Linked DNA regions of Homo sapiens. The main gene of each other region encodes a partner of the protein of the gene in region 2 in a complex. Each region holds a gene or a part of one and is shown on either strand. Other genes may lie near its edges.

Region 1 (7,854 bases), on a different chromosome or scaffold from region 2:
GGTGACAGCAAAATAAAGAAAATCCAAATAAATACGATCCCAAAAGATCAATTTTCACTGGTCTGCTATCTTACTGGATTTGCTGAATAAAATGCATGCCTAATCCATGATCAAAATAAGTTCAATTGATCCGGAACGTGCTCCTTTCACATAGCCTGCCTGTTGAAGGTGACTCCCTGCAAGCAGCCCGTAAGCCCAATAATGGATTTCCCTGGCTATTCTAAGGAACGAATCGATGTATTTTACAATATTGCACCTCCATGTCGTTGTAAATTTTGTTATTATTCCTACCAGCAAACGTTCGAGCTCGAAGCCCGCACCGAGTGTCTCTGAATGGCTCTCCCTAAGTAGGAAAAACCCACTCGCTTGTCACAAAGCTAACCTATTTTCCCTGCCTGGACCTCGGAAGCCAAGAGGGAACGTGCTGTGGCTAAAGGTGTGAGAAAGTTCCTCATTCTTTCCCCCGTTAAAGCACATTGTGGGCGCTCCCAGAACCGATCGGGTGGCTCTTCGCCCCAGCCGTCCTGGCCGGGAGAGCCTATTTGTTACAAAAGCACCCGAACGGTCCCCGCCGCCCCAAACGGCGACCGCGCGGGTGGCGCCTCGGGATCTCGCTTCGCGTTCCCGGGCCTGGGGGAGGGGGGGGACGCGGGTGCGGGCCGGCGGGGTAGAAGCCACCCGGCCCGGCCCGGCCCGGCGAAGCCCTCCCAGGCCTGGACAGCGCGCCGGCCCCCGGGGCGCCCCGACCGCGGCGGGAGGCGGCCGCCCGTCAAGATGGCTTTGGGCGCCGCGCCCCCGCCGCCCCCGCGGGAAGACGGGGAAAAGTACGCGGCAAAGAAAGAAACTCAGGCTCGCGGCGCGGCGAGGCCGCCGGGCGGAAGCAGGCCCGGCTGGCGCGAGGGTTACCTGGGATCTGCCCATGGTCGGTCCGGGGGTGCCGGGGCTCATCGCCGGGTGACTCCTTTGTTGCGCGGCCGCCCAGGCCGGGCTGGCAGCGGCGTACTGGGCGCCCATGTCCTTGCCCAAGCCCATGCCCGCGGCCGCCTGCTGGCCGCCCGCCGCCGCCCCCGCCGCCGCCGCCTGGGACTGGGGCTGCGACGGCGGCGGCGGCGGCGCGCTGGGGCTGCTGTACTCGGGGTAGCTGCCGCCGTAGCTCCGCATCATGGGGCTGGGCGAGGTGAGCAGCTGATTGAGGGTCGGGGTGGCCCCCGACGGGTGCTGGTTCTGGCCGGCGAAGCGCTGGAAGCCCCCCGCCGCCGAGCCGGCGGCCGCCTTGCTGAGGCTCGCGGCCCCGCCGCCCCCGGGGCCCATCATCATGCCGCCGCCCTGCTGCCGGGGGGAGCTCAGCACCCCGTACCCCGCGGACGAGCCCCCATAGCCGCCGCCGCCGCCGCCTCCTGCTGCTGCCGCCGCCGCCGCGGCCGCCGCCGCCACAGCTCCCGCTCCTGCTCCTCCTGCTCCTGCTCCTCCTCCTCCTCCTCCTCCTCCGCTGCCTCCTCCTCCTCCGCCGCCGCCGCCGCCGCCGCCGCCCGCGCCGGGCCGGCTGTAGCCCGGATAATGGTTGCACTGGCTGTTGGGGTACCCTTCGTGGGAGTTCTGCAGGGGGTCCATGCTGCCGGGGGCCCCGGCGGCGGCGGCGGAGGCGGAGTGCATCATCCCCATCCCGGGGCTTTGTTGTCCGCCATGTTGATCAAAGCAAGGCCCAGCGCGGCCGCCGGGGCCGCCGCTCGCAGGGGCAGCGCTGCCATAGTAATTATTAAACTCCGGGACGGCCGCCGGGCCGCCGCCGCCCCCGGGCACGGCGACCGGCGGCTGCTGCGTGCCCAGGGCGCCCAAGCCCGGGTGCTCGTAGCGGCCGCCCGCCGGCTCCCCCATCTTGGGCGGCGCGTCGTCCTCGTCGCCCGGCTTGCTCAGCAGCGGCGGGCCCGGGGGGTCGGCCTGGCCGCCCGCAGCACTGTCCTTGGCGCCTCCATGTTGCGGCTGCTCCATGTCGGGGCCGGGCTGAGGCGCGCCGCCGCCCGCGCCGCCCAAGCTGTTGTTGTTGGAAATGGGATGTTGCTGTTGCTGCTGCTGCTGCTGCTGCTGTTGCTGCTGCTGCTGCTGCTGCTGGAACTGGTTTAGCTGCTGCTGTAGTGCGTGGTGGTGGTGGAGGTGGTGGGCATGGTGGTGGTGGTGGTGGGCATGGTGGTGGTGGTGGTGCTGCTGGTGGGGCGGCGCGGCGGGGGCTTCGCCAACGGTTTTCAGTTTGTGGTTGGGGAGCAGCCCCGTCTCCATGGCCGAGCCCGGGCCCGACGAGGAGGAAGAGGATGCCGCCGCTGCCGCCGCGGAGGAGGAGGAGGAGGAGGACAGCGCGGCGGCGCTTCCACCCTCCTTGAGAGCCGCCTCGGAGCCGCCGCTCTTGGCGCTGTGGGTGCCGGCGGCGGCCGCGGCGCCCGCGTTATGGGCCATGTTGAGTTCGTGACGGGGGAGCAGGGGGTGGTGGTGCACACTGTTCAGGCCGCCGCCGCCGTCGCCGCCGCCCCCCAGCATGGGTCCCGGTGCCGCCGCCGCCGCCGCCGCGCCGCGCGCCCCCGCCTCCAGGTCCCGGGCTCCGGGCGCCGGCCGCGGCCCGGGGGGCGCCCGCCGTTCGCCGCTGCCTGCCCGCGCCCGCGCCCGCGCCGCCGCCGCCGCCGCCGCCGCTGCTGCCCGCGCGGCCATGATCGCCGCGGCGTGGCGAGGCCGGGCGGGGGGCGGGGGGAGACAATAACCCCCACTTTTCAGGCCGCGGCCCCTCCTGTGCGCATCCACGCGGCCCGCCGGGAAGCCGCGACCCCCTCCCCCTCCGCAGGCCCCGCCGGAGCGCCGGGCCGGGCACGCCTTACGCTCTGGGCCTGCTCCTGCTGTGTGCTTTCATGGTGAAAGTTTTTAGTTCAGGTTTAAATGAAACTTTTCTCTTTTCCTCTCTAGCCCGGATATGGGTAAATACACGACTAGCTGAGCCTATCGGGCCCAGCATGGCTTGAGAGGCAGCGGGCGAGCTCGAGCAACTATTATCCACTTCGCTCGCATTACTCCCGCGCACTCGCAAAACGCGGACTGGACTCGTCCCCGGGCCGCCGCCGCCCGCCCCGGCGCAGCCTCGCGGGACCCAGCCGGGCTTGGGCTAAGGCTGGGGCCGGGGCCGGGGCCGGGGCGGCTCGGCGGCCGCTCGGAGCGCGGCGGCGTGGGGCGGCCGGAACCTGCACTTTCCCCCCGGGCCGCTGTCTCCTTGCCAACCGGGCGTTCGCATGTTTGTTTTCACGTCTAAAAGGAACGATACAAAGGTGGAAAACGAGTCTGACGAGCAGACAAAAGAGGGAGAAGGGCTGGGAAACAAAGTTGTCTATTGGCCTCAGAGGTTACAAGGAGCCGACGGAGAAAGAAAATATTTAGGCAATCTGCAAAAGCACGGTCTCTCCCAGGAGTTATGTAATTTTCAGAACGTTCGCCTCTGCCTTGATTTCGGGCCATCGGCGTAATTCCCACAACTTCTTCCAACTGCAAAATTAGGAAAGATTTGAAATGAAGGTTAGCCCCGGTCAGAGAGCCCTATGGCCTGTACCCAGTAGGTACTCAATAAATGCTTATGACTGACTGCACCCGCCCCAAAGAGAATGTTTACATAACTCTTTTTGAAGGCACCTTAAACACGTATGTAGGTTTGTCAGTGTATTTCCAAAGGAATATGTCCACGTATTCCCAAAGGAGCATTTTTCTTACATGCACTTGGATGTCCTCTGTGGAGTATGTACAGTGGTGTTTTCTGCGCCAACTTTCACATGAACATTTAACTCTTGGTGCCAGAACAGCGACAGCTATGGGTTAGCTCGTATCTTCATAAATCTATATGACACCTTTCATCATGTTTCAGAGCTTCGTGTGCACAGTTAACCCTCTCGATATACATTCATTTCAAAGAGATGTGGAACGAAACTAAAATATTATAGACATTATATTTAATAAATATAACTTCAATAATAATATAAAACAGTCAACTCTAGTCCTAATGTAGAAATGTTCCATACTTTGTTCTCTTAAAAATTGGTGTCTATTAACATTTTATAATGTTTTTAATATTTGCATTGTTATTAATGTTTTCAATATGTGCATTGTCCCCTAGTAACATTTTAAAAAGCAAGACTTCTTAACCTTAGGCAATGACCCACTTGTACTAGTGTGGACTCAGTTTTCATTGAGAGAAAGCATTTAAAACCTGGCAGAAACAATACTTACGGTTTTGGTAGAGTATAGTTTTCCAAAATTATTTCATTCTTCAGCTTTCCATAAAAACTATTTTAGTTCATTTCCACTGCAGCAGTGGTTATTTGTTTGACCAAGTGTAAATATGTTACATGACTAAATAGAAAAGGATTGATGGGAAAACTGGTGACTAATTGGGGTCGGGGGGAGGGAATCAGGTGCACACCCAAGGGTCATTATAGAGTGTAGAAACAACAAATTGCAATTCTACGCAAACAACTGGAAAACGGGATATATCATCGTGTGTTAGAGAGAATAACAGAACCATAAGATGAATTCGTGCCAAATCATTCATCAGTTTTTGCCAAGAGAATACTACATCTTTGTTAGTGTGCCTTTTTGACATTTTTTCCTGGATTTTCTCCCTTTATATATTCAAATACATACTAATTATACGCATTACACCACAGAAGTTGAATTTTTAGTTTTTCATATGCAAATATAAATATATGTCTGTTTTGTGTGTATATACATATATTCTAAAATCAATTACATATTTATGCTTTTAGACATAGTCAAACTAAGTATGTACACATCATCCTAAAAGTGCATTTTTTCAAATTGATAAAATATATCAAAGTCAGTTCATACAAGTGTAGCCATATGTTGTGGCTTATTTTCACAACTAATCCTAAAAGGGAAAATGAGTCACCAAGTTCAGCTATGGCCCTTTTCCTTAAAATATTTTTTCATATTGGCAAATCGTGAAACTAAAAAAAAATTAGTAGAGAAGTCAAAATCTCTTTTAATTCCATTTGCTTCAGCAAGTCAACTAGAAGATTGGAACTAAGAGACTATAAAATAGAGGCCCCCAGCACAATGAAATCAGTCTGCTATAAAAGGCGACACATGCCAGTTTTTCCTCCCCAATGGCAGATGCCACACCCTAAAGCAGACAGAAGGCACTGCAGCCTGTAGGAGAAGCACAACACAAAGCCGGCAGGACTTGGTTTTGTCTTTTAAACCACGGAGAATGCTAAAATACCTTTCTAAAGCATCTTTGCTGAAGATAAGAAGTGCACTCGAATTTGCTCAACTTTTCATACACACCTCAGGAAAACAAAATAAAAGCCTGTTTAGTTTCATTTAAACATCCAGGGCTTAACAAACAAAACACCAATTGTCAGGGGTCTGTTACAAAGTGATGAAATAGGTTCCCATTACACAAAAGCACAATTTCAACCACAGGTTCAAATTTCCATTGTGTTCCTTGCCTCAACTATCTCATATGGCAATTCTACCTTATTGTTTCTTTTTGATGAAATAAGGTACTAGAAATCACTGCGCTCATTTTTCCTAATGAATTCCTTAATTTTACACCTCTTGCCTAAATTTCAAACCACAATGACAACTTTAATAAGTTACCCTAACCACAAAGAAGCCATGAGGGGAAGGCCCGGAGGCTGCCCGCAGCCACCCTGGGTTCCAGCCGACCTCCCACCCACAGGGTGCTCCCCACGCCCTCATGTTTAGCCAGAGGATTACCCATTATTTTGTTAAACATTCCTTTTTGGTTACAAAAGACTTTTTTTTTTACTGTATGGAAATATTAATATTCAAATACTGCGCCTTTTGAATAAGTTTTAGGGCACTGAATAAAAGGCTCTTCAACTTGGCCACTTAAAGGGGATTGAGCCAGATGGTAGTTTAAGAATTCCACAGTTCTGTTCTTTTTGCCTCATCGTAGCCCATCATACTCTGTTTGCTTTCAGATTAGTCCCCTTTTACTGTTCTACTTATTTATTCGATGACTGAAACTATCACGATTCACTGCCCATCATATTTCTAACTATTCTTTATGTAATTTGGAAGCAATTTAGAATAAAGCCCTGTCAAGGTTTTACAAATAAGAACTATTAAAGAATAAAGCTTTGGATACTTGCTTTCCTTTTAGATTTATGAGAAATGCGATGAATAGAGCTAATGGGATTTCCCTACTGATCTTGGTCAGGGACTTAAGAAAGCACGAAACAATTGTCCTTTTCACTTCTCCGATTTAGACGTTAGCAGTGAATAACTGCGTCACTGCAAGATATGGGATGTAGCATTTGATTTGAAACAACTGTGCAAATCAATTAGGTAGGATTTGAAAAAAAAAAAGAAGCCTAGGCAAAAAAAATAGTTCAAATTTGGGAACTATGGCAGACGGTAGCACTAATAAACTTACTAAGAAAATTATTGTGGGGATAATAAACCTGGATGGAGATACACTGCATGTAGTCATTCAACAAATTTACCTAGAGTCTACCTTGTGCCATGCCTTGAAAATGAAAGATAATTACCTTGGTCCTGTCCTTCATAGGGGAGATAAACAATTAACAATCACTCATACCTACTAAGGTCTGCCCCTCAATGTCACATGGGATTTGGCCAGTAAAGAAGCAAGCTCAGACCTTCCCCATCCCGCAGCATTTCCTGCAGCGGAGGCTTGCTGGCTGCCATTAGCGGGCAGCTGACCCTAATCCTCCCGCTGACACAACTCCGACTTGACACCTGGAACCCACCACTGTGGAGTCTGGACTTCCAGAACCTTAAGTTTAACATCAGGCTACTACAGTTTCTCTCCAAATTCCTTAGAAACATAGTAACACCAGTGAAATACATTAAGAAACACCTTACTACATTTTAATACATTGTACTTTTTATTTTATCCTGGACTGTCCGCTTTTGAATGACTTTATCACAGCCTCATTTATAAATTTCTTGTAACTTTTAGACAAATGTGTGTTCAATGGCTGCTTTTATTTCCAGTACTGTCCTCAATCATTTTGCCATTAGTGAAAATCACTTACTGAGCACCTACCAGTGTTTTTCAGTATTCTACATCACATCATGTAGTCATCTTTGTGGCCGTTCTTAGTGATAACATGCTGCCTGGCTGGCTAAAGGTCCTGCATAGGTAACTCCACTCTAGTTCCTCAAAATAAATATTTGGGTAGTAAGCATATATAATCAGGTATACAAATAAGTCACTTGGCAGTTGAATCACCTCAGTTTTCTAGAAAAGTTTCAGGAACTTACCTGAAGGCCTTCTAGGTCTCTCACAGATAATGATTAATTGCTTTATAGTACAGGTAAACTTTGAGAATAAGACTATGTTTCAAAAACAGTAAGTCCCAAATAACAATAACTCGTGCATTAATGGAGCGCATTCCTCGTTTTTAGTTCACCTTGCTTATACCTGATGACTTGGTTTCTAATTCATTATGCGAGTCAGTGAGCACCTTTAAGGGTTTATGACAGTCATCTAATTGTCTTGGTCAGGGCCAAAGGACTTGGTTATATGCTTTTCATACCAAAATGACATAATTTCATTGAGGAATCTGCTTATTAACCCATTCCCCTAAAAATGCCCAAGTTAAATATAAAGAATTTTTTTCTCTCTCTAACTTGAAGTTACATTGCAACATGTAACTCTAAGACTTAAATTTCAGTGAGCTCTCCCTGGCATCTTCTTGGGCCCTCAGGTGACACCTGTGTCAAGCTGTACTCTGTGTAGTATAGGTGACCCTCTTTCTCAAGGACCGGACATGCCAAAAGGTTTCCCTGCCAAAGCATAACCCACAAGGAGCATCT
Region 2 (7,330 bases):
ATGCCCGGCTAATTTTTTTGTATTTTTAGTAGAGACAGGGTTTCACCATGTTGGCCAGGCTGGTCTCGAACTCCTGACCTCAGGTGATCCACCTGCCTTGGCCTCCCAGAGTGCTGGGATTACAGGCTTGAGTCACCATGCCCGGCCATCTGCCTGTATTTTTTTCTGTGGGTGCCTGAGGGTGTCTGCCTCTGTATCTCCCCAAGGGCGTCTGGATGTCTCAGTGTCTGGTTGGAGCTCTTTCCTCTCTTAGGTGTATCTTCCCAGGTGTCTCCAAGTGTCTTAGAAGGCTTGTGTCTTGTGTATGTCTGGTCTGTCAGGGTGTCCGGCTCCTCCCGAGTGTGTCTGGGTGTGTTAGGCGGTGCGGCCGTCTCTTTCTGTGGGTGTGTGGGTGCCTCGGAGTGTCTGGGAGAATCTTCCTGATGGTGTCTGGCGTATCAGGTGTATTTCTGCACGTGTGTGCCAGTCCATCAGAGGATCTGGACTTACCCTTGAATGTGTTTAGGAATATCGGGATCCTCGGGGTCAGTTTCTCTTCCTGAGTCCGAGGGTCTGTGTGTACCCAGGAGCGTGGCAGTGCCCACCTGGCTGTGTCTCTTCCTGTCTGTCTCCTGTGTGTGTTTGTGTGTATCTAGCTGAGTGATTCTCCCTGAGTATGTCGGTATCTCCCCGCTATGTGTCCAAGCATCTCATCTGGCTGTGTCTTCCCCAGGGTCTAGGTGTATCTGGAGGGCTAATTGTTTCTTTCTTTTTTTCTTTTTTCTTTTTCTTTTTCTTTTTTTTTTTTGAGACGGAGTCTTGCTCTGTCGCCCAGGCTGGAGTGCAGTGGCGCGATCTCACTGCAAGCTCCGCCTCCTGGGTTCACGCCATTCTCCTGCCTCAGCCTCCCGAGTAGCTGGGACTACAGGCGCCTGCCACTACGCCCAGCTAATTTTTTGTATTTTTAGTAGAGACGGGGTTTCACCGTGTTAGCCAGGATGGTCTCGATCTCCTGACCTCATGATCTGCCCGCCTCGGCCTCCCAAAGTGCTGGGATTACAGGCGTGAGCCACCGCACCCGGCCTCTTTCTTTCTTTCTCTTTCTTTCTTTCTTTCTCTTTCTTTCTCTCTCTCTCTTTTTCTTTTCTTTCCTTCCTTCCTTTCTTTCTTTCTTTCCTTCCTTCTTTCTTTCTTTCTCTCTCTTTCTTTTTCTTTTCTTTCCCTCCTTCCTTCCTTCTTCCTTTCTTTTTTTTTTTCACCCAGTTTGGAGTGCAGTGGCACGATCTCGGCTCACTGCAACCTCCGCATCCCGGGTTCAAGTGATTCTCTGCCTCAACCTCCTGAGTAGCTGGGATTACAGGCATGTGCCCCTACACCCGGCTAATTTTTGTATTTTTTTTTTTTTAAGTAGAGATGAGGTTTTACCATGTTGGCCAGGCTGGTCTCAAACTCCTGACCTCAAGTGATCCACCCGCCTCAGCCTCCTAAAGTGTTGGGATTACAGGTGTGAGCCAACGCGCCTGGCCAGCTAATTGTCTCTGAGCATTTCTGAGTGTACCCATGGGTCCAGCTATGTCTCCTCCCTGTGTCTGGGTGTCTCCAAGGATCTGGCTATACCTCTTTGAGTCTCTAGGCTGTATCTGAGAGTGTGGCTTATGCCTGTAATTCCAGCACTTTGGAAGGCCGAGGCAGAGGATCGCTTGAACTCAGGAGTTTGAGACCAGCCTGATTAACACGATGAAACCCCATCTCTACCAAAAATACAAAAATTAGCCCAGTGTGGTAGCATGCCAGCTACTCTGCCTGTAGTCCCAGCTACTCAGGAGGCTGAGGTGGGAGGATCACTTGAGCCTGGGAGTCGCAGTGAGCTGAGATTGCGCCACTGCACTCCAACCTGGGTGACAGAGCGAGACCCTGTCTCAAAAAAAAAAGAAAAAAGACAGCATGGCTGGGCCTCTTCCTTCCCGCATCTGTCTCAGACGATCTGTCTGGATGTCCCCTGCGGGTGTCCCTGTGTCTCCTCTGCGAGTGTCTGGATCTGTCCATATTTGTCTGGGTATGTTTGAGAGTCGCTGTGTCTTCCCTGAGTAGGTCTGGGTGTGCCTGATGGCCTAACTGTGTCTTTTTCTGAGGCTTTCTGGTGTATCCAAAGTTCTGACCGTGTCTCCTGCTGTGCATCCCAGGGCATCTGAGGGCGTGACTGGGTCTCCCCAGAGTCTGGGCCTCCCTCCTAGGGCATGTGGTTAAATCCTTGCCTCTGCAGCCTCTTCCCTCCTGCAAAGAGCATGGTCCCCCCACCTGCATAGTTTGAGGAGTCCTCCGGGGTCAACTTCCCCATCTGACCCCCCCATGGCCCTGTCCCCAGACTGTGAAGCACCCCTGAAGAAGGAGGGTGGCCTCCCGGAAGGGCCGGTCCTCGAGGCTCTACTGTGTGCAGAGACGGGGGAGAAGAAGATTGAGCTGAAGGAGGAGGAGACCATTATGGACTGTCAGGTGGGCCCACCTCTGGGGGACCCCCGCTGCATGGCTTCGTCTCACCCCTGCCTGCCACCAGCCCGGGCCCTCACGTTCCTGCTCTGAAACCCCCCCGGTTTCTTCTGGCTGTTGGGCATCCCAGTCACCATCCTCCCAGACTTCATCTCTATTTGGAAGAACTCCTGACTTATACTCTCACCCCCAATCTCCACCTTTGCCCAGAGCCCCTCAAAAGCAGGTCAGTGGCCCCCACTTTCTTGACCCGTCTCCTTTCTCTATTGCCCAGAAACAGCAGTTGCTGGAGTTTCCGCATGACCTCGAGGTGGAAGACTTGGAGGATGACATTCCCAGGAGGAAGAACAGGGCCAAAGGAAAGGTATCACCCCAAGCTTCTCCTCTTCCCCGCTCCCCTCAATGACAGGTCTCATTCATGGAGCAGGTGCAGTGGTCCGCCCCTGCCACAGTCTGACCTCAGTCTGACCTCATTGAATCCCCAGAGCGGCCTGCAGGGGTGGGGGATTTTATACCCATTTTACAGATGAGGAAACTGAGGCTCATCTGTATTAAGCCATTTGCAAAGCAGAGATTATGCAGTGGGTTAGAGCTACCTTCATCCCCATGCCACAGAGGAAGAAGCTGAACCTTGGAGAGGTTCAAGGCCCCACAGCTAGGACATTTGTACAGCTGCAATTTGAATTTGCAAAAGACACTGTTTTCTCACTTTCTTTTTTCTTTTTTTTCTTTTTTTTGAGACGGAGTCTCGCTCTGTCACAGGCTAGAGTGCAGTGGCGCAATATCTGCTCACTGCAACCTCCGCCTCCCGGGTTCAAGCGATTCTCCTGCCTCAGCCTCCCGAGTAGCTGGGACTACAGGCACGCGCCACCATGCCCAGCTAATTTTTCTATTTTTAGTAGAGACGGGGCTTCACCATGTTGGCCAAGGTGGTCTCGATCTCTTGACCTCGTGATCCGCCTGCCTCGGCCTCCCAAAGTGCTGGGATTACAGGTGTGAGCCACCACGCCTGGCCTGTTTTCTCACTTTCTTGGCCCCTCACTCCTGACTCTCCCCACAGGCATATGGCATCGGGGGTCTCCGGAAACGCCAGGACACCGCTTCCCTGGAGGACCGAGACAAGCCGTATGTCTGTGATAGTGAGTCCTTCTGAAGAGGGGGAAAGGCAGAGAGAGGGGTGCCCAGAGACTCCCCACCTCGTGGCCCTCTCCCTCCCGTTCCAGACCCGGGTTGGGAGGCTGCTCAGGTCTCTGGCTGAGGGGGGAGGTGTGATCCTGGAGGCCAGGGTGGAGGCGGCAGGGGCCCGGAGGGGCTGACAGGCCCTCCTGGCTCGCTCGCTCCCCAGTCTGTGGGAAACGGTATAAGAACCGGCCGGGGCTCAGCTACCACTACACCCACACCCACCTGGCCGAGGAGGAGGGGGAGGAGAACGCCGAACGCCACGCCCTGCCCTTCCACCGGAAAAACAACCATAAACGTGAGCTGGCAGGCCAGGTGGGGGTGGCCAGGGGCCCTGGGAGTGGGGAAGAGGAGCCCAGCTGGGGGTGGGGGTGGGGGGGCATTAGACATTTCTGGAAAATCTCCAGCTCAGCCGTTCCCTCCCCCCACCGACCATGGGGATGCTGGCTCCGGGGTTGCCATGGCAACCAACCATCGCTCCTTCGCTCCTGGCCGGGCGTAATATTTCTGGGTCTGATTTATTGTTTCAATTAGAGCTTGGGGAGGGGGGGTGATAGATGGCTCCCCTCCCGCCCTGCCTTCCCTTTCTCCTTTCTCTGCTAAGCTTTGGTCAAGGGGCAGGGTCTGTGGCCTGGGAGCCCTTGGCTTCCGCCCTTGCCAATCCCATGCCAGTTCTGACAGCTGAAGGATGGGGGAGGGGAGGAGGGTTTGGGAGAGGCAGTAGGGAGACACTGTCTTCCCACCTATCTCTCAGAGGCAGAGGCTGAGTGTCTTCACCCCTGGCCACTACACACCCACGCACCTCAGTGTTCGGAGTTTTTCTTCCGAGTGTCTGTTTCCATACCAGATCTTGGCTGGGGTACTCGCTGAATTTGTTAGATACAAATTACTGAGGGTGCAGTTGGGAGTGGCTGGCTGGGAGACATGTATGTGAGAAGGGAGGCAGGGAGCCCTTCCTCAAGCTGTCTACCAAGTTTTGACCCAATAAAGAGGACATGTCAGTTGTCTCAAGGAGTTGGGAATCCTGGCTGGGTGCAGTGGCTCACGCTTATAATCCCGCCACTTTGTGGCAGTGGCCGAGGTGGGAGGATCACTGGAGGCCAGGAGTTGGAGACCAGCCTGGGCAACATACCAAGACCCTGCCTTTATTTTTAATTGAAAAAAAAATTTAAAAAGGCAGAGTTGGGAGTCCCGATGAGAACTGTTTTCACCTCTCCCCACAGCTTGGGGTAGCTACTCACTCTTCCCAGCTCCCCACGCCTGGACTAAGAGGTCCATCCTTGGGGCTGAGGCTGGGGGCAGGGTGGAGCCTTGCCTGTGGTGAGAGTCCCTCTCTCTGTCCCCCCTACCCCAGAGTTTTACAAAGAATTGGCCTGGGTCCCTGAGGCACAAAGGAAACACACAGGTACGGATGCCTCCTTCTGCTCCTAAAGTCTGCAGCCACCTTTGCGGGGTGCCCTTGCCTGCCCCGTGCCAATGCCTGTCTGCTGTCTTGCAGCCAAGAAGGCGCCCGACGGCACTGTCATCCCCAACGGCTACTGTGACTTCTGCCTGGGGGGCTCCAAGAAGACGGGGTGTCCCGAGGACCTCATCTCCTGTGCGGACTGTGGGCGATCAGGTGATGCTCCCCACCTGAGGTTTCTGGGGGCCGGGTGCAGAGGACATTCAGGAGTGCAGACCTGGAGGGAGGGAGGCAAGGCGGTGAGGACCGAGGGGACCCGGAGCATGTAGGGGATACTGTGGATAACCAGAGCTAGCGAGGCTGATGCAACTGCTGAGGATTGTGGGAATTGGGTCGGATCAGTGAGGCTTTAGGGATAATGGGATGTGGCTCTCATGGCACTGTGGGTAGCTGCCTGTGCTTAGCATGGCATCAAGAGTAGTGAGAGGCCAGGTGTGGTGGCTCACGCCTGTAATCCCAGCACTTTGGGAGGCAGAGGTGGGAGGATCACTTGAGGCCAGGAATTTGAGACCAGCCTGAGCAACATAGCAAGACCCCCATCTCTACAAAAAATTTAAAAATTATCCAGGTGTGTTGTTGTGCACCTGTAATCCCAGCAACTCAGGAGGCTGAGGCCGGAGGCTCCCTTGAGCCCAGGAGTTTGAGACCAGCCTGGGCAACATAGTGAGATCCCATCTATATATAAAAAAAGTTAGCTGGGCATGGTGTTGCACCCCATTAGCCCCAGCTACTCGGGAGGCTGAAGTGGGAGGCTCGCTTGAGCCCAGAAGGTTTTTGTTTTGTTTTGTTTTGTTTTGTTTTTTGAGACAGAGTCTCCCTCTGTCACCCAGGCTGGAGTGCATTGGCATGATCTTGGCTCACTGCAACCTCCGCCTCCTGGGTTCAAGTGATTCTTGTGCTTCAGCCTCCCGAGTAGCTAGGATTACAGGCACCCGCCACCATGCCTGGCTAATTTTTAATATTTTTAGTAGAGACGGGGGTTTCACCATGTTGGCCAGGCTGGTCTCAAACTCCTGACCTCAGGTGATCTGCCTGCCTTGACCTCCCAAAGTGCTGGGATTACAGGCGTGAGCCACCGCAGCACCCAGCCCCTTGAATCTGGGAGTTTTTGACTAGCCAGGGCAACATAATGAGAGCCCATCTATTAAAAAAAAAATAGGCCAGGCTGGGTGATGTGGCTCACATCTGTAATCCCAGCACTTTGGGAGGCTGGGGCGAGCAGATCATGAGGTCAAGAGATCAAGACCATCCTGGCCAACATGGTGAAACCCCATCTCTATAAAAATACAAAATTTAGCTGGGTGTGGTGGTGCGTGCCTGTAGTTCCAGCTACTCCGGAGGCTGAGGCAGGAGAATCGCTTGAACCCGGGGCTCAGAGGTTGCCATGAGCCAAGATTGCACCACTGCACTCCACCCTGGGTATCAGAGCAAGACTCCGTCTCAAAAAAAAAAAAAAAAAAAAAAGGCTGGGCATAGTTTCGCACCCCATTAGTCCCAGCTACTCGGGAGGCTGAGGTGGGAGGATCGCTGGAGCCTGGGAGGTCAAGGCTGCAGAGTGCACTGTGATGGTGCCACTATGCTGCAGCCTGGGCAACAGAGTGAGACCTTGTTTCAAAAACCAAAACAAGACAAAAGGAGTAGCAAGAGACAGGGGCCAAGGCATGGCAGGTAGTGGGCTGTGTGGTGTGAGTGACGGACACCACCACCTGGGCACCGGTAGCAGGATGAGCTCGCCATAGAGTTGTGGTTAACAGAATGTGGTTTCCCATGGTGGGCTTGTGGGCAATATAGACTCTGGTTGCCTCAGCACAGTAGGTCATGAATTGTGGTTGTCGTGGCATCATGGGTAGTGAAATATGGTTGTCATGGCAACTCAGTATAATGGAATGTAGTTGTGATGGCACCGGGGCCGTGGTTGCAGGGGGCGGGCGCCATGGGTCGTGGCTGCAGGTAGCGGCTGCGGGTGTCTCTGCAGCGGGGCTGTGGAATGACTAAGCCTGGCGCTGCACAGTGCTGTGATGTGAGTAACAGTTTTGTTGCTGGGGCACCAAGTGGAATGGACTTCAGTTGCATGAAACCGAAGTGTGGGGACCCCGTTGTGGAAGGTGGTTGCCATGGCATTGTGGCTGGGAGAGTGTGGTTGCCACGTTGCTGTGGTTAACAGGACCCCTGGCCGTTCTGCTGTGGGTAATGGAAAGTGGCTGTCTCAGCACGGTGGTTAAC

The links.
Region 1: DPF1 (region 2) and ARID1B share a complex: the UniProt entries of both Homo sapiens proteins name them as parts of the neuron-specific chromatin remodeling complex.

Annotation. Positions count from the first base shown.
Region 1 is NC_000006.12:156,772,524-156,780,377, reverse strand, and holds the start of ARID1B (AT-rich interactive domain-containing protein 1B), read right to left. Parts: upstream 3,001-7,854; 5' UTR 2,698-3,000; coding exon 907-2,697; intron 701-906; exon of another isoform or gene 647-700; intron 1-646. UniProt on the Homo sapiens protein: Involved in transcriptional activation and repression of select genes by chromatin remodeling (alteration of DNA-nucleosome topology).
Region 2 is NC_000019.10:38,214,073-38,221,402, reverse strand, and holds part of DPF1 (zinc finger protein neuro-d4), read left to right. Parts: intron 1-2,344; coding exon 2,345-2,472; intron 2,473-2,740; coding exon 2,741-2,830; intron 2,831-3,526; coding exon 3,527-3,605; intron 3,606-3,811; coding exon 3,812-3,943; intron 3,944-4,999; coding exon 5,000-5,050; intron 5,051-5,143; coding exon 5,144-5,263; intron 5,264-7,330. UniProt on the Homo sapiens protein: May have an important role in developing neurons by participating in regulation of cell survival, possibly as a neurospecific transcription factor. Belongs to the neuron-specific chromatin remodeling complex (nBAF complex).